Homo sapiens: one gene and its partners. The protein of the gene in region 1 purifies or fractionates together with the protein of each later gene. This does not show direct contact. Each region holds a gene or a part of one and is shown on either strand. Other genes may lie near its edges. The genes, in order: SLC28A1, POLR3F, MGA, MTNAP1, NMNAT1, POLR3C and ALDH3A2.

The links.
Region 2: the proteins of SLC28A1 (region 1) and POLR3F purify together in Homo sapiens (affinity purification with mass spectrometry; one large-scale study listed by BioGRID and IntAct). This does not show direct contact.
Region 3: the proteins of SLC28A1 (region 1) and MGA purify together in Homo sapiens (affinity purification with mass spectrometry; one large-scale study listed by BioGRID and IntAct). This does not show direct contact.
Region 4: the proteins of SLC28A1 (region 1) and MTNAP1 purify together in Homo sapiens (affinity purification with mass spectrometry; one large-scale study listed by BioGRID and IntAct). This does not show direct contact.
Region 5: the proteins of SLC28A1 (region 1) and NMNAT1 purify together in Homo sapiens (affinity purification with mass spectrometry; one large-scale study listed by BioGRID and IntAct). This does not show direct contact.
Region 6: the proteins of SLC28A1 (region 1) and POLR3C purify together in Homo sapiens (affinity purification with mass spectrometry; one large-scale study listed by BioGRID and IntAct). This does not show direct contact.
Region 7: the proteins of SLC28A1 (region 1) and ALDH3A2 purify together in Homo sapiens (affinity purification with mass spectrometry; one large-scale study listed by BioGRID and IntAct). This does not show direct contact.

Annotation. Positions count from the first base shown.
Region 1 is NC_000015.10:84,883,472-84,887,461, reverse strand, and holds the start of SLC28A1 (sodium/nucleoside cotransporter 1), read right to left. Parts: upstream 2,801-3,990; 5' UTR 2,757-2,800; coding exon of another isoform or gene 2,711-2,756; intron 791-2,710; 5' UTR 675-790; intron 77-674; exon of another isoform or gene 1-76. UniProt on the Homo sapiens protein: Sodium and pyrimidine nucleoside symporter of the plasma membrane that imports uridine, thymidine and cytidine into cells by coupling their transport to the transmembrane sodium electrochemical gradient.
Region 2 is NC_000020.11:18,477,390-18,480,889, reverse strand, and holds part of POLR3F (DNA-directed RNA polymerase III subunit RPC6), read right to left. Parts: intron 853-3,500; coding exon 709-852; intron 489-708; coding exon 381-488; intron 1-380. UniProt on the Homo sapiens protein: DNA-dependent RNA polymerase catalyzes the transcription of DNA into RNA using the four ribonucleoside triphosphates as substrates.
Region 3 is NC_000015.10:41,764,905-41,768,404, reverse strand, and holds part of MGA (MAX gene-associated protein), read right to left. Parts: coding exon 3,343-3,500; intron 2,402-3,342; coding exon 1,125-2,401; 3' UTR 1-1,124. UniProt on the Homo sapiens protein: Functions as a dual-specificity transcription factor, regulating the expression of both MAX-network and T-box family target genes. Functions as a repressor or an activator.
Region 4 is NC_000017.11:73,242,433-73,245,932, forward strand, and holds part of MTNAP1 (mitochondrial nucleoid-associated protein 1), read left to right. Parts: intron 1-463; coding exon 464-571; intron 572-2,735; coding exon of another isoform or gene 2,736-2,758; exon of another isoform or gene 2,759-2,914; intron 2,915-3,500. UniProt on the Homo sapiens protein: Critical regulator of mitochondrial DNA (mtDNA) abundance. Binds dsDNA throughout the mitochondrial genome without sequence specificity and controls mtDNA copy number by promoting its replication.
Region 5 is NC_000001.11:9,983,737-9,985,998, reverse strand, and holds the end of NMNAT1 (nicotinamide/nicotinic acid mononucleotide adenylyltransferase 1), read right to left. Parts: 3' UTR 864-2,262; coding exon of another isoform or gene 856-863; 3' UTR 501-855; downstream 1-500.
Region 6 is NC_000001.11:145,830,700-145,834,199, reverse strand, and holds part of POLR3C (DNA-directed RNA polymerase III subunit RPC3), read right to left. Parts: intron 941-3,500; coding exon 836-940; intron 727-835; exon of another isoform or gene 711-726; coding exon 618-710; intron 1-617. UniProt on the Homo sapiens protein: DNA-dependent RNA polymerase catalyzes the transcription of DNA into RNA using the four ribonucleoside triphosphates as substrates.
Region 7 is NC_000017.11:19,662,251-19,665,750, forward strand, and holds part of ALDH3A2 (aldehyde dehydrogenase family 3 member A2), read left to right. Parts: intron 1-1,082; coding exon 1,083-1,249; intron 1,250-2,697; coding exon 2,698-2,797; intron 2,798-3,500.

The DNA of each region.
Region 1 (3,990 bases):
TCCTCCCACCTCAGCCTCCCAAAGTGTTGGGATTACAGGCGTGCGCCACCACCCCAGCCTGCACCCACATCTGAACCTGTAAGAGGCAAGTCCTTGTGAACTCTGGGAGTTCCAGGCAGAAACAGCAAATTCTGCCCACTTCATAGGGAAGGAAAGTAAAGAATTATATACAGCCTGCATATGTATCTGATACAGGCATTTTTCTGAAGAGAGGACCTAGCTTTCATCACTCCCTACAACTGGTTAAAACTATTACCATTAAGTGAGATCTTCAGTGTATTCTACTTTTCCATCTCTGAAAGATGGAGGTGCAACATCCTTAAAGGCATCATTCCAGTTCCTGGATCCAACTATACCTGAAACCAATCCTACTCCTGGACTTTCCATTGCAAGAATCAATATAGTTCATTTTTTGCTGAAGCTCAGTTCGTAGGCTTAAGCTCATCTGTAAATAAGAGTGGTAACTAACACCTCCTCTCTCCCTTCTCTTGTTCCCGCTCCTTTTTCTCCCCTTGGGTGGTGCCCTACTCCATCCAAATGCCAGCCCAGTTAGGCTGACATACTCAGAGACCCGTGCATGTGCGTGCACACACACAGGCAGAGCCTGGGAATGCCCTGGCTCACACACAGACGCACAGCAGCGCACACAGAAGCGGGGCCCTGTTTCTACTCACGTATTTGCGGTTAACAGGTCGCTCTCAGAGAGAGAGGGAAGCACACGTCTCTGTGGGGACAAGCTGGGTCCAACCTGCTTTGGCTCTGGCTTGCCTTGTCACTTCAGCAGAAATTCCTGGGCAGAGTCCAGGGTCGGAGTAGGTTGGGCCTGCCACCCAGTTCTGCCCAGCGCCTCCCCAGAGGCCAGGGCCACAGCCAGGGTGGGGACCCCAACACGGTCTCAGGGATACAGGAAGCAGGCCCACTTGCAACCTGGCTCCCTGCAGCTCCTGCCCACTGGCTGCTGCTTCTCCATCAGAGATGCCCTCCTCTGCCCTCTCCCCAGTTCCCAAACTGACCTCTTCCAGGCCTATTAGGGCCGCTTCTTCCAGGAAGCCACCTATGTGATTATTTCCCTCCCCCTCCTTCCTTCCCATGGCCTCCTTTCCCCAGCCAGGCTGTTAGCTTTTTGCATTTTATCTTTCATTTTGCATCTTTCTCTATCTCCCTTTCTCACTAGATGGGGATTTATTATAACAGCAACCAATTTTCCTGTGCTGGAAAATGAGGAAAGCAGTGTAGCTGTGAGAAATAGTAAAAGTGTTTCAGGTCTGTCAAGAAAACAAAACCAAATCACACCATTTCCCCTTCATTTCATCTTTGTTAAATGAATACCTAAGCCAACGGTGTGCAAAGCGAAGGGCTGAATGCTTTAGTTTTCCAGTCCTCACACTAAACATTAAACTCATCTGACGGGATTCACAACATCTCTTTAATAATTAATGGTACGCGCTCAGGACAAAATCCTCTATGATGCATAAATACTTGCTAGTACCGGCACCTCCTGGTTGTTTTGGAAGTTTGGAGAGGATGGTGGATGGACACCCCCTCTTTTTGAAAACATTTTTTCTTCATCTGTCATTTGAATTACCAAAGCATTACAAGTGTATCATTAAACATTTAAACATTAGAGAAATATACAGAATGAGGGAAGTTAAAGTCCCCGGAATCTGAGCCCTCAGGGATGACCACTATTGAGTTTGTGTGGCATTTTCCTCCTTTTTTTTTTTTTTTTTGAGACGGAGTTTCACTCTTGTTGCCCAGGCTGGAGTACAGTGGTGCGAGCTCGGTTCACTGCAACCTCCGCCTCCCAAGTTCAAGCGATTCTCCTGCCTCAGCCTCCCAAGTAGCTGTGATTACAGGCATGCGCCACCACACCTGGCTAATTTTGTATTTTTAGTAGAGATGGGGTTTCTCCATGTTGGTCAGGCTGGTCTCGAACTTCCAACCTCAGGTGGTCCACCCACCTTGGCCTCCCAAAGTGCTGGGATTACAGGCATGAGCCACCGCGCCTGGCCTTTTCTCCACTTTTTTTTTCCTAAATGTATGTTATTTTATGTTATTCATTTTCCAATAGGGGATCACACAGTAACAGTGTTCTCATAATTTGATTTTTCTAGCAGAGTTCCGCACACTGTTGAGAGCCCATGTGTTACCTTGATTGAAAACTAGCCACAGAGCAAGACTCTACCTTTAAAAAAAAAAAAGAGGGGGGGCACGGTGGCTCATGCCTGCACTCCCAGCACTTTGGGAGGCCAAGGTGGGCAGATCACTTGAAGCCAGGAGTTCGAGACCAGCCTGGCCAACATGGTGAAACCCCGTCTCTACTAAAAATACAAAAATTAGCCAGGCATGGTGGCAGGTGCCTGTAGTCCCAGCTACTCGGGAGGCTGAGGCAGGAGAATTGCTTGAACCCGAGAGGTGGAGGCTGCAGTGAGCAGAGATCACACCACTGCACTCCAGCCTCGGCAACAGAGCGAGACTCTACCTCAAAAACAGAAAAGAAACAAAAACTAAATGCCTCTGAGCAGCACTACTGTCTCCATGGGTGGCCACCACAGGGATGGGCCTGGAGCTGTCCTCGAAGGGGTCTTCGCCAAGCCCTAGTGAAGAAAAAAAGGACGCTACCTGCTTTTCCACTTTGCCCTGTGCTACCCCCTTCCCCTCCTTTCTTCAGTCCCGCCTTCCCTCCTCTCCTACTGTCCTTTTCTCTCACCCTTGTTTCTGTCAGCATCCAGAGGGAAGCCAGGAACACAACACATCCAGCAGCAACCATGCAGTGCAGCTTATAACCTTCACATCGTTGTGGGCCCTAATCTCTACAACAAGGATTTAATGGGCTGTGTGTCTTGGGGTGGACCTTGAGCTTGGAGCCCAAAGGTCTCCACTCCTGACTGCCAAAGTTAACTTGCTGCCTCATCTGGTGGTGGGTAATAGAGCACATGAGGAGTCAGCGTGCTCCTGCTTAGGAAGTACCTGGCAGGGAGTCAAGCGGCATCAGGCTGGCAGGTGTCATTGCTGTCACAGGTCCCATCCGGGGTGTCCTGACACACTGCTCCCCTCCTCCAGGCCAGGAGACTCCGGGCTTCTCCCCTGCTCCTCCTCTCAAGGAGGCATGGCCAGCAGGGATCCCAGACCCCAGAAGCCAAGCGGTCTTTTCAGGTGGAATGTGGCAAAAAGCCACAGGCTGGGGAGTTGGGAGGCTGGATAGATTGGGGTGGAGACCCCAGGGAAAGACCAACAGCTGGAGGACCTCAGGTGTCCCGGCTGTGCCCCTCCAGCTGTGGGACCTCAGCATGTCCTTGGGCTTCTTGGTGGCCTGTTTCCTAAGGAGACAGCCTCTGAGGCCCGGCACACCCGCAGACGCCCGCTGAGTGAGACCTAGAGCTGAGCCAGGCCAGGGCAGAGTGGGGAGAGGACCACATAAATATACATAGATAATTTCCCTCACCATCCAGCAGAGCTCAGAAGGGTTGACAGTAAAGGGGCTGCTCCACCCCTCCAACTCTATCCCATTCCTCAGAGGCAACCACCTAACTTTTCTGGTTTTAGTTCTTCTGCAGGCCACCTCCTGTTTTAGGGAATTATTAGTCAAAGAGTTGGAGAGGATCCCTTCTCGCCAGGCTCTGACATAATAGGTTATTTTATAAGTAGTGAGTGAAACATTCAAAAAGCACAAGAACTGTCAGAAGAGTTGCTCAGCAATCTCTTTATTTTCTTCTCATGATTCTGCCCACACTCATTTCTTAGCTCTTCACAGGCGAGGTCTCTTTCATTGCATCGATTCGTGTATCCAAGCACTGGACAAATAAAGAGGCTTATCACTCGTCAAGTTCCATGAACATGACCTCATCATTCTTCTCTCCTAAACCTGGGATGATTGGCAGAAAGGGCATCCATACAACTTTTTCTTCTGCATTTGGCATTGAAAAATGGACTTCCCGTAGTCTGTAGTAGAAATATTGGAAAGTAGCAATAATCCTAGCACTTTGGGAG
Region 2 (3,500 bases), on another chromosome or scaffold:
CTTCACTGTGAAAAGCATCAGTGTCCTTAAAAAAAGAATTTCAAAAGGCTAGGGTACAGTGGCACTTTGGGAGGCCAACGCAGGAGGATCACTTGAGTCCAGAAGTTCAAAACCAGCCTGGGCAACAAAATGAGACCCTACCTCCAAAAAAATAAAAAAAGCATCAGTGTCCCAAGCTGAGTATCAGTTCAGACAATGCCCAATGGCAGTGACTGCCTTTGCCTAAGATACAGGACAGTATTTTCCCAAAGTGGATTCTGCAGAATGTTCGTAGCTATCATCTCAAAAAAAAAAAACAATGTGGGTCAAATACATGTTTGGAATACATTGTATGTGACAAAGAATAAGTTTTAAAAAATAAGATGAAATTCAGTTCTGACCTTACTGATTCCCAATTCGCAGATATATTTCCACACTTCATGTGATGAGGCAAATGAACTATTTCTTTGTATCATTGGGTTCTGTTTGCTTTCTCGTGCTGTTTCTGCCTATAAGGATTGAAACATAAGAAATGTAAATAAGAATATTGGTGTGTTTTCTGAATACACTTTATACTGAGTCAAACCAACAACAGAACATATTTAGTTAAGTAAAAATTCCCAATTTCAGGTTTTTAATTCCTATAAAATATGATAAATAGATTAAAATCCTTTGTGAAAAACTTTTTACAAGAGGGTTTGCAGTGATGTTTCCTCAATCATACCTCACCTTGGACTGTAGGAATTTAAAACACTGTTGGTTAAGCACCTCTACAAATTCAGATTCAAAATCCTGGTCACTGTACCAGGCTCCACCAGTCACAGACCGGTCTGGCTGCAGGTTATAGAGCATATACACCTTCTTTTTTGAGGCCTAGGAAAGAACATGCACAGTTCATGTGTTTATAAGATAACAATTTCCAAAAACAAAAACACCTATATTTTGGAACAGTTTAAGATGTACAAAATTATTGCAAAGATAGTACACAGAGCTCCTATATACATCATGCTGTTTCCCCTATTTTTAACATCTTGGATTAGTGTGGTACACTTGTCACAATTAATGAACTAATATTGATAAATCATTACTAACTAAATGCCATACTTTATTCAGATTTCATTAGTCCTAATGTTCCTTTTCTGCTCCAGGATTCCATCCAGGACATCATACTACATTTAGTCATCTCTCTCAGGCTTCTTTTAGTTGTGACAGTTTCTCAAACACCGTATTTCTATCACTATGGACTCATGAGTATTTATTTTATACTTTGATTTACATTCAGATACTTCATTGTTATTCCCACACTGGAAGCTTTGGAATGCTTTGGGCATTGGAAGCTTTTCACTTGGTTCCTGTATCCCTTTGCTATGCTCCCATCGTGTGTGTGTGTATTTTAGCACTTTTTTTTTTCTTTTGGAGACAGGGTCTTGCACTGTCGCCCAGGCTGGCGTGCACTGGTGCAATCTTGGTTCACTGCAACCTCTGCCTCTTGGGTTCAAGTGATTCTCCTGCCTCAGCCTCCCGAGTAGCTGGGGCTACAGGCATGTGCCACCATGCCCAGCTAATTTTTGTATTTTTAGCAGAGACGGGGGTGTCACCATGTTGGCCAGGATGGTCTCGATCTCTTGACCTCGTGATCCTCCCGCCTCAGCCTCCCAAAGTGCTGGGATTACAGGCATGAGCCCCCGTGTCCAGCTATTGTAGCACTTTCTTACTTTCTAGCACTACAAGATGTCAAGAGCATTTTCTTTTCTTTTTTTTTTTGAAACGGAGTTTCGCTCTTGTTGCCAGGCTGGAGTGCAATGGCACACGATCTCAGCTTACTGCAACCTCCACCTCCCAGGTTCAAGCGATTCTCCTGTCTCAGCCTCCCGAGTAGCTGGGATTACAGGCGCCCGTCACTATGCCCAGCTAATTTTTTTGTATTTTCAGTAGAGATGGGGTTTCACCATGTTGGCCAAGCTGGTCTCTAATTCCTGACCTCAGGTGATCCACCCTCCTTGGCCTCCCAAAGTGCTGGGATTACAGGCATGAACCACCCTGCCCAGCCGTCAGGAGCATTTTCTACATGTTCATTTTATTGCATGATAGAAACCACGACTTGGGCACTAGATGTGTTCATTGCCATCGGGATGTCATCACTTCTAGGCCTTCTCAGTTGGCAGCACGAGATTTATGTGCGCATATTAACCCTTGTATATATACATAGCTATACTCAATATTTCTAAATATAACCATCTATATTATTTATATTAAATTACACAAGAGTCCATACTGATGTTTTCAAGTCTAATCCATTACTACATGGATCATTCTAACTTTCCTTGTTTGTCTGTAACTACTCACCCCAACACTGAGGAACCCAAATTTCACTGGGTTGTAAACATGAAGAATTTGGGCCAGGCATGGTGGCTTATGCCTGTAATCCCAGCACTTTGGGAGGCTGAGGTGGGCAGATCTTTAAGTCTAGGAGTTCAAGACAGGCCTGGGTAACATAGTAAAACCCTGTCTCTACAAAAATACAAAAATTAGCTGAGCATGGTGGCACGTGCCTATAGTCCCAGCTACTTGGAAGGCTGTGGTGGGAGGATGGCTTGAGCCCAGGAGGTTGATGCTGCAGTGAGCTGTGATTGTGCCACTGCACTCCAGTCTGGGTGACAGAGCCAGACCATGTCTCAAAAAAAAAAAAAAAGAAAAAAATTTGGCTAGACTTTGTCCCTTTTTCCTAGGAAATAACTTCTACATCTTTGGAATTTCCCAATAGGCCTTGTTATTCATGGTGAATCCCTTAGATCACACCTGGGTTTATGCTAACAAGGTGACTCCTGATAGGACTCTAAATAGTTTCAGGATAGGAGTTGTCCATGCTGGAAAGACCAACCGCATGATTAGAGGGTTGGGGCTTTGGGCCACATGACATCAGTCCAATCTCTTGGGAGAAGAGAGGAGCTGGAGATTGAATTCACTCACATGACCAAGGATTCAATCAATCATGCCTGTATAATGAAACCCTAATAAAAACTTTGGACAGCAAAGCTTGGGTGGGCTTCCAAATTTGGTTAATGCTTCTGTCATACAAAATAATTTCACCACCCTAGAAATATTTCTCATGCTTCACCTATTCAACTTTCCCTACCATCCCTGCCCTCACCCCGATCTTTTTAGTCTGTCTAGTTTTGCCTTTTCCAGTATGTCATATAGTTGTAATCATACAGTATGTAGCCTTTTCGGACTGGCTTCTTTTACTTAGCAATATGCATTTAAGATTTACTCATATCTTTTCATGATAGCTTATTTCTTTTTATAACTGAATACTATTCTGGTTTGTCTATCCATTCACCTATTGAAGGATACCTTGGTTGCTTCCAGTTTTTGATTATGAATAAAGCTGCTGATTACGAATAAAGCTGCTATAAATATTCATGTAGTTATGTGGACATGAGTTTTCAAATCAGTTGGGTAAATACTTAAGAGCTTGACCTTTGGACAATGTGGTAAGACTCTGTTTAGTTTTGTAAAAA
Region 3 (3,500 bases), about 43 Mb from region 1:
ACTATACAAAAATATAAATATCTTTACAGACTGTCAGTCCTTCATATCCTGACAGTTAATGAGTGAAAAAGCTCTACAGATCATTGGATCCATGGTTGCAGATAAAAAATATATCTTGTGATTCAAATACTGCCTTATTTCCCTGGTAAAGAGTGCCTACTGTGACTTTTCTTTACATCCTGTGCAGGTAATAGTGAATGAAACCTTCAAGCACCAGGAGGCTGGTTTGATTTGGGAAATTTCCAGCCCCATGATTTTTTATTTTGGCCACTGTCTCTGGTCTGGGGAGATAATGCATTTTATTTTAGCTGTCTCTTGAGTAACGTAATTTGTGGAAGGGGTAGGGCTCCCTCTATGCCTACCTCCAAAATATATACTCCCAGTAAAAATCTCTGGTACTGTGAAATGAGCTTTTCAATGCCCACAAAAATAATAAGGGAGAACTACTATTTTTTTAAGATCTCAAAATAATTAATAATAAAAGTTAAAAGCATCCCTACTTTACTGAAGGCTTGAATTTGTTAATTCTGATTGAAAAGGTGAGGGAATGGGAGCTACTTAGGATATGAAAAAAGAAAATTTTACTGAATGACACAAAGTCCTTCACTTTGGTATTCCATGGTACCCATCCTCTCTCTCCCTATTCTTGAAACATCAACTAAAAAGTGTCTCTTCTGGATCCCTTTGCACAAGTCCATCGCATTCCTTAGATTTTGGACTTAATTCAACAGCTACAAGCTACAGTTCAGTCTACAGCAACTCCAAAGTTGCAAACAGCTCTTTCGCTTGTGGGGGAAGAACTAGAAACCACTGTGGAGCCAGAGTCATGTTATAAATTCCTTGGGTAAGAGGGGCACCTCATGTTCAGTAATGGATCACATCTTCTTAGAGAGGATGAGGGGACCCAGCACCACAAGTGAGGTAACACATTTTAACATGATCAGAATTTCAGAGTACTTCTTATACCAGGGTCAGCACCCTACCCCCTTTCTCCCATCATTATCCACTGCATCATTGAAGTCAAGGATCCAAGTTCTAAGACACAAACAAACAGATGCCTGCAGAGAAAGGAGGTGAGATCTATTTCCCCTCACAGCCTGGCTTCTGCTTAAGGACAAGTAAGTTCATTTCCCTGCAGAACTTGGTGAGGCCCCCGAGTTGCCCAATTTAGCCACAACAGGTGCCAATGTAGGCATCACCTTGCTTTCCCGGCCTTCCTGGTCATTCCCTGTTAAGTTCATTTTGTGTCCAACTGACCCAACTTTGGCAGCTATAGGTGCCAAACAAGGCATCACCTTGAGACTCTGACCATCTGCATCACTGGAAGGATTAGCTACTTTTAAACCTAGAGGGGCCAACTTTGGCATAGGCCTCCACAAAGTGTCTGTGCTGTTGCTGTTCTCCAAGCCAGTCTTCATGTGTAGGGTGGGGGGTGAGGACACACTTTCGGGCTCTGCAGGGAGGCCAGAAGTATTCTTCCCTCCATCAATAGCTTTCTTGTTGGAAAGGAGGGAATCCTTTATTTCAGAGTCAATAACAATCTTAAGGACATCTGGCTCAGAGGCTGGTTCTGCAAGTTGTTTTTCATTCTCAGAAAAGTCATCGTCTTCCAAGTGCAAGAGGAGGGGACTGATAGAGTCACTCTCCCCTTGAACATCAGGCAACTCTTTCAAACCAGTTCCCAAGTGCTCAACCTGGAAAGTTGCTCTGCTTCCAGGAGGAACCTTACTAATAAAAGCCCGCCGAGCATCCCCTGGGAACTCTGTATCCATAGAGCTGGGTAGTTCAGCCAGGCCAACAGAGTCATCATTTAGTTGTTGATTAAGAAAGGCAATTTCATTGAGCAGTGAAGTCAGTGTCTCATCAGTATCATCCTCATCTTCCATGTTAGTCAGCAGTTCACTGGAATCAAGAGCTGCTTCCTCTATAGCTGATGTTACTTTCCTCAGTTCCATCTCTATGCTTGAGTCCTTGAGATCTTTCATCTTTAATTTATGAAATGAAGAATCCTTTGACTTCACTCTCTCCCCTCTTGATTCACTCTCTTTCCATTTATACTGAATCCCTCTCATATCACCAGAAATCTTTTTAGGTAAGAACTCTTGTGCTTTCTGCATATTGGAAACGTCAACTATTTGTGGATAACCAGAATCTTTGTTTGCCAGAAAAACCTGCGTTGGACCCAACGTCACTCTGCCATCTCTGTTTCCTCTGGAAGAGATTCTACCCTTATCCTCTAAGGAATTATCTTCATTCCTGACGGTGTCTTTCAGATGGTCAGATGGCTTGCTATCAGGAACTTCATGAGGATATTTGCTGCCACCCATATCTACCAAACCTCCCTCTGTGGCCAATGATGTCACATTAACAATTCGTGGCATCATAAATAAGTCGTCATTTTCTGAAAAACAAAAATTAAAAAAAGAAAAATTCATTTAGATCTAGTGTTAACACCTCTCTTTCTCTCTGTCATATCATATAACCATCTTAGGGATTTGTAGTCTAAATTCAGCACTCTACTTTTATCAAAAAGATGAAAGAAATATCAGTTCTTCAAATTATTGACCTAACCCAACAAGAAAAATCTCAACTAAAATCCAACCAAAAGGCTCTTTCCACCATTTTTTAAAGTTCCATTTAATTATTTTATAGAAATGCTCCCCAAGTTAATTCTTCTCCTAAGGCAGAAATGCATCTTGATTCTGTTCACCTAATTAACTGCTACTTAGCGCAGAAAATGAAGCCCTAAAGGCAGCATGGGAACCAGGAAAGATGAGTCCTCCAGAGTGAGTTTGGCAACAGGTAGAGACAAGGAATTTTGGCTGGCAATGGCAATAAAGTAACCAGGATCCTAATATTACTAAAGAGACCCTTTCATCTTAATAGAAATTTAGTTGCCTGGAACCTAATCACCCAAGTGAGGCTTCTCTTTCAACTTTACCCTTTGCCCCAAAACAGAGTAGTGCTCAAAGTGAATGGGGCTAATAATGCAGGACTGTTATCATCTCTGAGTACCACAAAAAGTGACAAATATTTATCAACACCAAGACCTAAGACCATGATCATTTAACATCTTCCTTTCCCTCTGATATCTTTTTTATTCTTCCTCTTAGAAATTACTAGTGTTCACAAAATGGTTCCCAATACCAGGTGTAAAACACACCAAACAGTACCACAGCTCAAGCCAAATGTGTTCTAAAAATAGGGCCACCTCTTACCAAGGCAAATGCCAACAGAATAGCTCTTTATCATTACAGAACACATCCAAAGCCTTCCTTGGTCACCGTGAGATGTTAGGGATAACTTTATCACTTCCCATAGAGGACAACACTTACAACATACCTGGTAGAGCCACAGCACTACCGGCAACTTGAGGCTTAAGATCAGATTCTAAGAGATCAGGAGAAACAGCTACCACTGGTCCTGAGAATAGGGGACCTTTTAGGGTGAGCAATTGCCCTTGCGGAGTCATCACAAGGTTGGCAGAGGTGTGTGGAGTG
Region 4 (3,500 bases), on another chromosome or scaffold:
CTAAAGAGGAGAGGAAAAAAATGTTAAAATGTGTGTTGTCTTCCTAGTTTTCCATTTGTCTGTGTTCATTTTGGAGTTGGACATAATTGAAAGCACCAAAGCTAATAACAGCTACCATTTATTCAACAGCTTGTATTTTTTAATACCTACCCCCAACTTTCCCTTGCCCACATTGATTGTGCCTCCTCCCAAAGCCAGAAAAACTCTAAACCTCAAGTTAACCAGTTGTATTAGCCTCCTCCCACTAAAGATTTTAACCAAGCACCCAAAACAAGAGTAACTAATTTGAATCTAGTCAAGTTAAGGTTCTTTGATGTTAGCCTTTATGTGTTTAAAATATGTGCGTGTAAATCTCTGAATTACAGTTCCATCACTCAGGCTAACTGGGAAAACTTGAATGACTCGCGGATACTGGCCCTAGTTTCAGTTGCTGTAACAACAAGCCGTGTTTCCTTTTGAACAGGCTGGATCAGGTGCAACACCACCATAAGGAAGAGTGGATTCGGTGGCATCACGATGCTCTTCACAGGATACTTCGTCCTGTGTTGTAGCTGGAGTTTCAGACGTCTGAGTAAGTCTTTCTATATTTCTAGCCTAAATAACAGGTCCCATTCCGTTATGTGGACCTCCAAGGGATTCTCTGAATTTTTTTTTTTTTTTTTTTTTTTTACAGCTTTACAGTATCTGGCATGCCCTGGTGAATGAGCTATTGCCTGGGGTTTCTGGGTTTTATTTTTTTGAGATACAGTTTTGCTCTTGTTGCCCAGGCTGGAGTGCAATGGCACGATCTCAGCTCACTGCAACCTCTGCCTCCTGGGTTCAAGTGATTCTCCTGCCTCAGCCTCTCGAGTAGCTGGGATTATAGGCATGCACCACCATGCCCGGCTAATTTTGTATTTTTAGTAGAGACGGGGTTTCTCCATGTGGGTCAGGCTGGTCTCGAACTGCCGACCTCAGGTGATCCGCCCACCTCAGCCTCCCAAAGTGCTAAGATTACAGGCATAAGCCACTGCACCTGGCAGGCTCCGGGGTTTTATTAGAGGCTTGGTTGTAATGGCCTGTATAAGATTTGACTAGAATTTACATAATTGCCCTTGTCCTCCATTTCATGTTGTCTTTTTTTTTTTTTTTTCCCACCCAGGCTAGAGTGCAGTGGCATGATCTCAGCTCACTGTAACCTCTGCCTCCTAGGTTCAAGTGATTCTTCTGCCTCAGCCTCCTGAGTAGCTGGGACTACAGGTGTGTGTCACCATGCCTGGCTAACTTTGTTTTTGTATTTTTAGTAGAGACAGGGTTTTCACCATATTGGCCAGGCTAGTCTCGAACTCCTGACCTCATGATTCTCCTGCCTCGGCCTCCCAAAGTGCTGGAATTACAGGCATGAGCCACCGCACTCAGCCTTTGTAGCTTTTTTCCCTTCCCTGCTAAAAGGTCAGGTACCTAAGAACTGTTACCCTGCTCCAATGGAAGGTGCTTTTCCTTGGTGCCTAAGAGCACCTTTTTGGCATTGAAACCAAACACCTTTACACCACAAAAGAGAGAAGGAGGAATAGAATACAGCTGTCACTTACCAATGTGTCTAAGTCTTATTGCTATCTCAGTTAATCTACTTTGAACACTTAAAAAACAAAGTGCCATTCTCCAAGTTTCAGCTTGCACTAAGTCTTAACCAGAAGGAAAATACCTTAATTTCATTTATCTTAATTCAAGATGTGTTTGTTCATTTCTTATTGTATTATTAAAAAAATCCTTCTAGTTAAAAAGATGAGTGGGTATCAAAAATATCAGCATTTTTGTATAATTAAATTTTTGTGCTGGTTTTTGTACAATCAAAAACCAGTATTTTGGGGCCGGGCGCGGTGGCTCACGCCTGTAATCCCAGCACTTTGGGAGGCCGAGGCTGGCAGATCACCTGAGGTCATGAGTTCAAGACCAGCCTGCCCAACGTGGTGAAACCCTGTCTCTACTAAAAATACAAAGATTAGCTGGGCGTGGTGGCGGGCGCCTGTAGTCCCAGCTACTCGGGAGGCTGAGGCAGGAGAATTGCTAGAACCCAGGAGGCAGAGGTTGCAGTGAGCCGAGATCGCGCCACTACTCCAGCCTGGGCAACAAGTGAAACTGCATCTCAAAAAAAAAAAAAAAAAAAAAAAACCACCAGTATTTTTGTACAATTAAAACAAAAAGCCCACTTTCAGATGAAAACTTCAGGTGTAAAAGTACAAGATAACGATGAATTCTGAAGGCCAGCATAATTCACACACTGGACTTCTTAAGAAAAAAAAAAATCACAATTTGATGCTAATTGGGATTCGTTTGATGAAATCAGTGCCTAGTGAGTAGCGGGTAGGTCCGACAGCAGGAACAAGGCGGCAGCACTCCTGCATGCTGGCTGGGATGGCCTCGCCGCCATCTCTTGTATCAGACACCTGGCCATGGGTGAGGAAAAGAAGTGCCTTTCTGATCGTCCTGCATAAATGGAGAGGCCCAAAACCAAGAGTCATTTCTCCCACAGAGAAAAGGGCTTTTCTTAAAGTTTTACCAGTCTGAAAGGGATTGTTTGATACCTGACATTAATGAACAGAGACTGAAGAAAGTGAAACAAACTTCTCATTGTGCTTAATACTCTATTTCTAAACTTATAAAACAAAAAGAGAATGATCTGTAGAGGCAAAAGATAGTAACAGTCATTGGAAGTGGCCTCTCGGATCCTTACATTTGTCTCTGTTTATCCAAAGAGCTGCAGCGGTGGCGTAAGTAGTGTTGACCTGGACATCACTTAAAGCTCTGGAACAGCAAAGGGCGTACAGTGGAGACGACTGCAATACATACTTAACAGTTTAAAAATGTATAATATTTGGGACAGGGAGAGGGGAGTGAAAAAAATAAAGAATAAAATTATTGGAATCTAAAATAATGATACAGGAAGTAAACGTATTATTAATATAGACAGATCTGGTTCTGTCTGGATGTTCTTGGCTTGCTCTCAGGAGCAACTGAGAATTAGAGAAAAACTAGTTTTGTTTAACCATAAAGTTGTTATTCAAGGAGATGTGAAGATGACAAAGTTCATCACTAAAATTAAGAAGTCACTTCTCAGTAAAAAGCTAGTATCTCATTACCATTCAGCTATATGAGATACCAGACTACTACCTATATGTTGATACAGGAAAGTATCTGAATTGGCAGAAAATAAGCCCACATCAGGCCCTTCCCCTTAGTTTCTTTGGGGCCCTTGACCAGATCTTGATAAGGTGTGAGAAACACAAGAGCTAAGGATGGGCATTCGAGTTGCAGGTAAGCCTCCGAAAAAAAGCTTACAAATATTTTTAAGCTGATTTTTAAAATAGCACACTAACTATAATGTTAAATCACATTTTATACATCTTAATTGAGTATAATAATGAACCGGTGGCTAATGTATCATCTCTTCCTGGAAACTTTTCAGAATCCCACCCCTATCTATCCCTTTCTCAAGAGTTTCTGTGCATTACTGAGAAATT
Region 5 (2,262 bases), on another chromosome or scaffold:
AGAGAATAATGGGACCAGGCACCACTATGACAGGTCAAAAACCCTATCTGGGCAGAGCGTGATGGCTCACACCTGTAATTCCAGCACTTTGGGAGGCCAAGGTGGGCGGATCATTTGAGGCCAGCTTTGCCATCACGGTGAAACCCTGTCTCTACTGAATATACAAAAATTAGCCAGGCGTGGTAACACACGCCTGTAATCCCAGCTCCTTGGGAGGCTGAAGCAGGAGAATTGCTTGAACCCAGGAGGCAGAGGTTGCAGTGAGCCGAGACTGTGCCACTGCACTCCAGCCTGGGTGACACAGCAAAACTGTCTCAGAAGCAAACACACACACACATACACACACACACAAACACAAAAGTTAATTATGGCCCATATCACCTTCTCCCTCGGATTCCACTGTTCTAGTTCCAAGGAATTGCTAACACTGGGCAAGTTCAGCCTAGTCCTTCCGTGAGGACTGAATACGTCGGACTCATCTCCATCAGACTACCACAAACTGTTGTTGAAAGCTTTATTTGTCCTCACTTAGGGTAAATGAAAAATTTCAAGATTTGGCTACAACTTCATTCTTTGAAAAGTAATATTTTACAGAAAGAGAGATTAGGGGTACTGGCTCTGAAGACAAAGCTTAGATTCAAGCTCAGCTCACCATTTATACCAGTCCCCTGATTTTGCCGTTTCCTTATGATATAAGGCACTCAGGAGCACAAGCCAAGCACACAGTAAGTGTTCAGGAAGTGCTGACATTATGAAGTTCAAACAGCACCACTGGTAAACGAAGTTCAGATTTCAGAGGTGGAGACTGTGTACGCAGCCTCACAGCTGAGTGGATGCCGTGGTGAAATGTTTAGATCATAGGCCTTTGAGAAAAATTATGAGAATGTTAGAGGAATGGGCCTCCGTTGGCACCCAGAAATAAACGTTAAAGGAGGCTATTTCATCATATAACAACTTCTGGACTTCTAGAAAAGTGAAAAGAGAGGCTTGGGTAAGGAAGATGAAAGCCCTCCCACCACCCTGCATGCTGACCTAGGGCATCCTTCCTTCTACTCTGTTGTTAGATCCTCATGATGGCCAAAAAAAAGCATTCTTTAACCTAAACCATCCCCATGGCTCAATCTCTACCCCTTCATCACCAAGGAAAAGCCACTTCTCTTATCTGAAAGGCCTGCTGTTCACATAAGCAAACACTACCACAAAGGCTCTCCATCATCCGAATGAAGATGCCAATCAAGGACTTTTACTGCAGGTTTGTTTGCCACTTTCAAATTACACAATGTAAGGGGTAAAGGGTACAACACATAAAACCCCCAGCATCAAACAAACAGGCCAAACAAAACACCAGCATCACACATTTCCTCTAAATTGACAGTACAAAAGCAAATTATGGAAATGATGCAGGAGGGAATAAACAATGGCATATTTTCTTCACGTCAGTCATTAATATTTATTCCCCTGTGAAATTCATTGTTCTAACTTCCATTATTCAAAGTGGAAGTTCTGTCCTTGAGGACACCCAAAATTATGCTATTACGTGGCAGCATCAACAGCATCCTCGGCGTTGGGAGAAAAAGCCAAGCTTGTTCTCTGTACAAAGCTTGTTCTTTGTACAAAGTTGTTGCTCCATAAATAGTGCAACAATAGGATCAGGCTGGGTGCAGTGGCTCATGCCTGTAATCCCAGCACTTTGGAAGGCCGAGGTGGGCAGATCACCTGAGGTCAGGAGTTCAAGACCAGCCTGTCTAACATGGCGAAACCCCATCTCTACTAAAAATACAAAATTAGCCGGACATGGTAGTGGGTGCCTGTAATCCCAGCTACTCAGCAGGCTGAGGCAGGAGAATTGCTTGAACCCGGGAGGCGGAGGTTGCAGTGAGCGGAGATCGCACCACTGCACTCCAGCCTGGGAGACAGAGTGAGACTCCATCTCAAAAACAAAAAACAATAGGATCATTGTACCCTTACCAGGGCTCCTGCAAGGGTCCCCACATGCCTTGTCCAGTGAGGTCCTGAGGTCAGTAGTCACAGCTGAGCAGGGCACAGGCACTTCTGAGTAGGAAGGCACGATAGTATGAGAGAAGTTTCCAGCATTGGAAACTTTCTGCAGTTTACGTGACACTTCAGATGAACTAGGTGTAGTTTCCCAGAGGAAGTCCAAATTCAGTTCTGATAGCTTCATCTTGCTCTATCATTACTTTTCAGGACTCCTTCAACTCTTAAACTCCAAGAAGCTAAGGAGGAGAAAATGACCCTCATCTG
Region 6 (3,500 bases), on another chromosome or scaffold:
GTGATTAGATGTTTAGATACACAGATGCTACTGCGTTACAACTGCCTACAGTATTCAGTACAGTAACATGCTGTACAGGTTTACAGCCTAGAAGCCATAGGCTATCCCGTTCAGTCTAGGTGTGCTGTAGGGCTACACCATCTAGGTTTGTGTTAAGTACACCCTATGATGTTCACACAATGATGAAATCACCTAACGACACATTTCTCAGAATGTATCCCTGCTGTTAAGTGATGCATGACTGTATTACTATGAAAGTAATATAAATAACACATATTGGATATATTAAATATCGATATTTTAAGTACAGGGGGTCAAATAATGTCCTGAATGCCAAGGCTCTCAGAGTCCAAATTGTGGATTCTTAAAATAATTAGGAATAGGCTGTACTTGACGAATAGATACTTTGACTAAGTGAATAGTGTAGATTTTTAAAAGCTGGATCCTAAGAGACCAAACATTTCAGTGCTCATCACTTGAAGATAATCCCTGCTCCACATCAAATGCCCTTCTCTTTCAAGGCTCAGACCTCAACCCAAACTCAGGATCTGTGTATAATAAACGTTGATAACACCCAAGAATCTGTCAGAAAGTTAGTGCAAGAACATGAAACTCACCTCATTGGAAGACAATGGCTGGGTGAAGGGAGCACTAGAGGAAGTGGTAATCTCACTCATTCGGAGCATGGTTCGCACAATCTCGCTGCTTGTCTGTTTGAAAAGTAAACTAGAATTCAGAAATCACAGTGCTGCCCCTGGCTCTATGTGCCAATGGCCATATCTGACAAATAAGTAAATGTCCCTGATGACCAATGACAGACCCACTTAGGTATTACCTGGTCCATCCTGTTAGCAACTGCGCTCACAATGGCTTGGTCACGGAAGTGTTGGTGGAATCTGTCAAGGTTGGCCTGCCAATAAATCCCATCATCTGGAATGGGCTGAGGAAAAGATTTAGAGAAACATTTAGCTATAGTGTAAAGTTTTCTGGTGAGGAGCTTGGATTTAATGGTTCACCATTTCTTTTCCTACACAGTAACAATTACATTGGTTGGAAAAAAATCATTCAGTCATGTAGACTGGTGTCTAGACAAATTCCGACTTCAAACAGGTTTTCTAAGCTCATCTCCAATCTTTCTCTCCCTATTTTATTATTTAACATTTATTTTAATTTTTTTCTGAGACGGAGTTTTGCTCGTCACCCAGGCTGGAGTGCAGTGGCATGATCTCGGCTCACTGCAACCTCTGCCTCTCGGGTTCAAGTGATTCTCCTGTCTCAGCCTACTGAGTAGTTGGGATTACAGGCAACCACCACTGCGCTAGGCTAATTTTTGTATTTTTAGTAGAGTTGGGGTTTTACAATGTTGGCCAGGCTGGTCTCGAACTCCTGACCTCAGGTGATCTGCCTGCCTCGGACTCCAAGTGCTGGGATTATAGGTGTGAGCCACCACATCCGGCCTTTCTCTCTCTATTTTAACTCTTCTCCATTACTTTCAAGTCTCCAACTTGACCCTTCTTCCTTCTCACTCTCGGCAGATGACTTTGCCTCTCATTTCACAGAGAAAATAGAAGACACTAGGCCAGAACTCACTCAGCTCTGTGCACATCCTCACCACATTTCTTTTTTGTTCTTGATTCATATTTTCACTCACTTTTATCACAGCTGAAAAATGCTCCTTTTACCTAAGGTTAATGCCCATATTGGTATTCCAAATCTTACTCTCTCATTCATTCTTGGGGATCCAGCTCTATTTTACCCTGTCCTCTAACATCTTCAGGCTTTCCTTCTCTACCGCCTTCTTATCAGCCTTTACCCTGTCCAAGTCTCTTTCTACTCTAGAATTCTCTTTCAACCCTATGCCTTCTCTTCTTTTCCTTAGTGTCACAGCCAAGCTTCTCAAACAGTTGGCCATCTCAGTTGTATCTCTACCTAGATTTACGCAACCCATTTCCACTATTGTACTGAAATGTCAATTGTCACTCGCATTCCAGTGAAATTCCACAACTGTCCTTAAGGATTCTATGTTGTTAAGTTCAAATAATAATTTCCACTTCTGATCTTATTTAACCTTTTGGAAGCATATGACATGGTTGGACATTTTTTCCTTCTTAAAACTTTATGTGGCTCCTTGGTTTTATGACACCATTTTTTTTTTCCTTTTAAAGACAGGGTCTTTGTCACCCAGGCTGGAGTGCAGTGGTGTGATTGTAGCTCACTGCAGCCTTGACCTCCCTGGGCTCAGGTGATCCTCTCATCTCAGCCTCCCAAGCAGCTGGGACCACAGGTGCGTGCCACCACGCTTGGGTAATTTTTGTATTTTTCTGTAGAGACGGTCTCACCATGTTGCTCAGGATGGTCTCAAATTCCTAGGCTCAAGCGATCTGCCCGCCTTGGCCTTCCAAAGTGTTAGGATTACAAGTGTGAGCCACTGGGCCTGGCCGACACCATTTTTTCTTGGCGTTACTTTGAACCTTTCTGGCTACCTTTCCTCAGTATCCACAGATTCCTCTTTCAGATCCCAACTGTAATCCTGGTGTTTTGTCAGGGTTCTGTCCATACCTTTCCTTTCTTTTTACTCTACATGCTCTACTTGGGTAATTTTATCTGCTCTCCAGGCTTCAACTATTGATGCATTTCCAAATCTGTTACTCTATCCTAGAACTCTCTCTTTTTTTTTTTTTTTTTGAGATGGAGTTTTGCTCTTTCGCCCAGGCTGGAGTGAAGTGGCACAATCTCCGCTCACTGCAACCTCTGCCCCCCAGGTTCAAGCGATTCTCCTGCCTCAGCTTCCCAAGTAGCTGGGATTACAGGCCTGCGCCACCATGCATGGCTAATTTTTGTATTTTTAGTAGAGACGGGGTTTCGCCATCTTGGCCAGGCTGGTCTCGAACTCCTGACCTCAGGTGATCCACCTGCCTCTGCCTCCCAAAGTGCTAGGATTACAGGCATTACCGCACCCGGCCTATCCTGGAACTCTCTATTATGCTCCAGATGCATAGACTCAGCTGCCTATTTGACACTTCCATTTGTTCCCCAAACTGTTCTGTTTTGTAAGTTTTCAGGTAACTACACTATAACCAACCCAATTTTTTTTTTTTTTTGAGACAGGGTCTTGCTCTGTTGCCCAGGCTGTAGTGCAGTGGCACCATCATGGCTCACTGAAGCCTTGACTTCCTGGGCTCAAGTGATCCTCCCACCTCAGCCCCTGAGTAGCTGGGACTACAAACATGTGCCACCAGGTCTGGTGTTTTTTTTTTTGGTACAGATGGGGTCTCACTATGTTGTCCAGGCTGGTCTCAAACTCCTGGGCTCAAGTGATTCTTCTACGTCAGCCTCCCAAAATGCTGGGATTACAGGCACGAGCCACTGTGCCTAGACAACCCAATTTCTTTTTTTTTTTTGAGATGGAGTCTTGCTCTGTCACCAAGGATGGAGTGCAGTGGCGTGATCTCAGCTCACTGCAACCCCTGCCTCCCAGGTTCAGGCCATTATCCTGCCGC
Region 7 (3,500 bases), on another chromosome or scaffold:
GATCATCTTACCTGAGCATGGCTATGCAGAGGAAGTAGACACTCAGCCCAAATTGTTTCTCTGACCTGAGGAAGATGTGGGCAATGGATTTGGAGTGGCAGTTTATATACCCCCTGGAAGTGGTGCTGCAAGAAGCTGTCCCCAGCCACATTGCCAAGATAACCTATTAGAAACTGGGGGTAAAGGAAAAGTGCCAACTTGTTATTGTCAGATGACTTCTCTTTTGGTTGACGAGCCAGTTTCTTACTTACAGCATCTTTTGGAGTACTGCTAGTTGGTGACTTACATTGGCAGCAGATGCTGGGACACTTTGTCTAGCCTCCCCAGCATCTGTTTCACCCTCCTTTCTTGTGCCTCTTCCCCATGGTAGATGGAACAGTGGACTAAGGTTTAGGGAATTTTGACCATTTAAGTCTGTTTTCTTAATCTGTCTAACAGAGTTATAATAAAGGTTAATGAGATCATATATATGAAAGCACTCGAGTTAAGAAAAATAGTATTGATTTGATTCACAGAGGAGCTGTCTTTGCTCCTAGAAAGACCTGTCCATTCGAGACCAGCCTGACCCAACATGGAGAAACCTCATCTCTACTAAAAATACAAAACTAGCCGGGCGTGGTGGTGCATGCCTGTAATCCCAGCTACTCGGGAGGCTGAGACAGGAGAATCACTTGAACTCCAGAGGCGGAGGTTGCAGTGAGCCGAGATGGCACCATTGCACTCCAGCCTGGGCAACAAGGGCGAAACTCCATCTCAAAAAAAAAACCTGTCCACAGAAAAATGTTAAGTATAATCTACAGTTAAATACATGCATGGCTGTGAACAGGGTTCAATGTGAAAAAGATATATTTGAGTGTGTATCGTTCCCTTGGTTTGCACAAGTATCCGCAGGGTTGTGATTCACAGGCTTTGGAGACATTGAGTATGTGCACAGTTCATCCACGTGCTCAGGATTTTTCAATAGATATGACTTGGGTGGGAGAGGGAAAGGCATGGATAAGTGACCCAATGAAAGAGATGTAATATGAGAGTTGTGCATTTTTGTCTAATAAGCATTTTCATTTTGTTTATTTTCTTTTTAGCCCCAACAGTACTTACCGATGTTGATCCTAAAACCAAGGTGATGCAAGAAGAAATTTTTGGACCAATTCTTCCAATAGTGCCTGTGAAAAATGTAGATGAGGCCATAAATTTCATAAATGAACGTGAAAAGCCTCTGGCTCTTTATGTATTTTCGCATAACCATAAGGTAAGCTTTAGAGAGAACAGCTAGTTAGCATAAGCAACTGTCAAGAGTCATGTTCCTTCTTTGCTGTAAAACAATGCAAAAAACAATGTGAAACAATGATGGTTTCTTTTGTGTCATGTCAGAGTCCATCCACTAAGTGAGGTTGTGTTCCGAGGTTGCTGTCTTGGTTAATGAGACTCTGGGGTTATCACAGCATCCATTCCCCTCCTCCCTCGGGTTAGATCTGAGTCTGCAGGGTTGAGTGTCACAAGGTTTTTGATTCACAAACATCTCCTGTATAATTGGAAGACTTATATGTGCCAGCATTAAATGCTTTTCTGATGTTAATCCACAGGGCATTGCTGAATAACAGCCTGCACAAAATGGCATTCACACCCACTGTGTGGGACAAAGACCCCGACACTGTCACATAAATGGTTGTGATATGATGGATTTTAGTTTCTAACATGACGCTAGCTTCTTGTTAGAGTGGTGGAACTGCATCACCTGGTTGAGCAGTTCTGCCACTTTCTGCATGGCTCACTCATTCATGTCACTAGGTGACCAGCCGCTACTAAGAGACCATGGCCCAAATGTTTTCTGGAGAGCTTCTGATGGTAATGTATAGATAGTCATGTGACAGCTTTTGGAGCTTGTGAGACTATTGAGATACAGATAGCTACAGGTATTTGAAGTGAGACCAAATGTGTGGGGCTCAGTAAAGACTGGGTTATTAACAAAACAATGGTTTGACATTTAAAACCATGGATAATGTGGGCAGGAAGGAACCCTGAAGCCGAAAGTAGGCTGGCCAGGGTATAAGTCAGGTGTGGAGCACTTCCCAGCAGTGGGTCACCCGAGGTCACTATAGTCCAGACTTGACGTTTGCCATGAACAATTGTCAAGGGCTTGCTGGCACCCAAGGGTAAATGACGTTTACTAGTCAAGTGTTCTTGTGCTTTTCTGAGCCTTAGGCCAAACAACCATTTATTTCTTAAAAAATAGGATGCTAAATCTAAAGTCTTAAATATTTTTACATTTCATAAAGACTAAATAATACCTATTAATCATGTGTTATAATTTAAAGCAGAGATAAGAAAGAAATAATAACAGTTTTTAAAGCTGGAATATAGTCTAAGCTGTCCCCTTTTAAAGAGTCTTTTGCTGCTGTGTTGGGGAGTACAACTCCAGGTTGTGGCTGAGTAGGCCCAGAGGTTTGGAGCTGCCTCCTTTTGTGCACTAGATGTGTGTCTGAGAAGTTGGGTATCAGTCACTTTGCTAAATTAACCAGTTGAGATTGTTTGTCTATCTGGCATGGTGTCCCCAAACTCGAGAATTTTCACTGACACAAAGCCAGAATGTGCATGCTTTGAGCACATAACTGAGCACACAGCCCTCTGTGTGGTGGGGCCATGAGTGTTCCCTAAGGGGCAACTTCACTGACCTGGACACCTTTGGTCTGTCCTCAGCTCATCAAACGGATGATTGATGAGACATCCAGTGGAGGTGTCACAGGCAATGACGTCATTATGCACTTCACGCTCAACTCTTTCCCATTTGGAGGAGTGGGTGAGTCTTATTTTCTCCTGCTTGTAGTAGATATTTCAAAAGCACCACCATTTCATGAGTGGATTGTATGGGCTGCTGAAATAGCCAGCTGTTGCGTACCCTGATTGTCCTCTCCTGAGGGAGACCTTTTCCTGGTCACCCAGTTGACTGGTTTTCCTGCTTCCCCACCCACCCCTCCAGCATAGGGCAAATGTCTTGTCACTCTCTTTCTGTCAGCAGCACTGACTGACCACAGCTTTGTTCACTTCGTTGATTTTGTTATCCTGCCACATTTAGGAGATTTGGGAACCAAGAATCAGGTCTCAAATTAATTAAGAAGATCTCTCTTCGTGTGTGTGTGTGTGTGTGTGTGTGTGTGTGTGGTGTGTGTGTTTAATGAAGTAGCAAATGAAAGGTTCGGAATACCAGGGACAGAAGGTAGAGGGGTTTTCTAATGTGCCTTTGTTTTCTGCTCAGTTCTTACCTGCATTGTTCCCCAGCCCTTTGTTGGGAGGAGCAGCCTCTCCTTGAATTGTTTTGTGATTTGAGTAAAACGGGACTCCCCCTGTTCTAGAGAGGATGGGCAGAAAGAAATTCATTCCAAGTGAAGCTTTGTGGACATAGCCTGATCCTTGCTTTTCCCTTTAGAACATGACCTGCCTGCCTCTCCCACATGTGAGATGACTGACTCAGCTTTTTATTTCTCCTTTGGGACCTAGGCTAG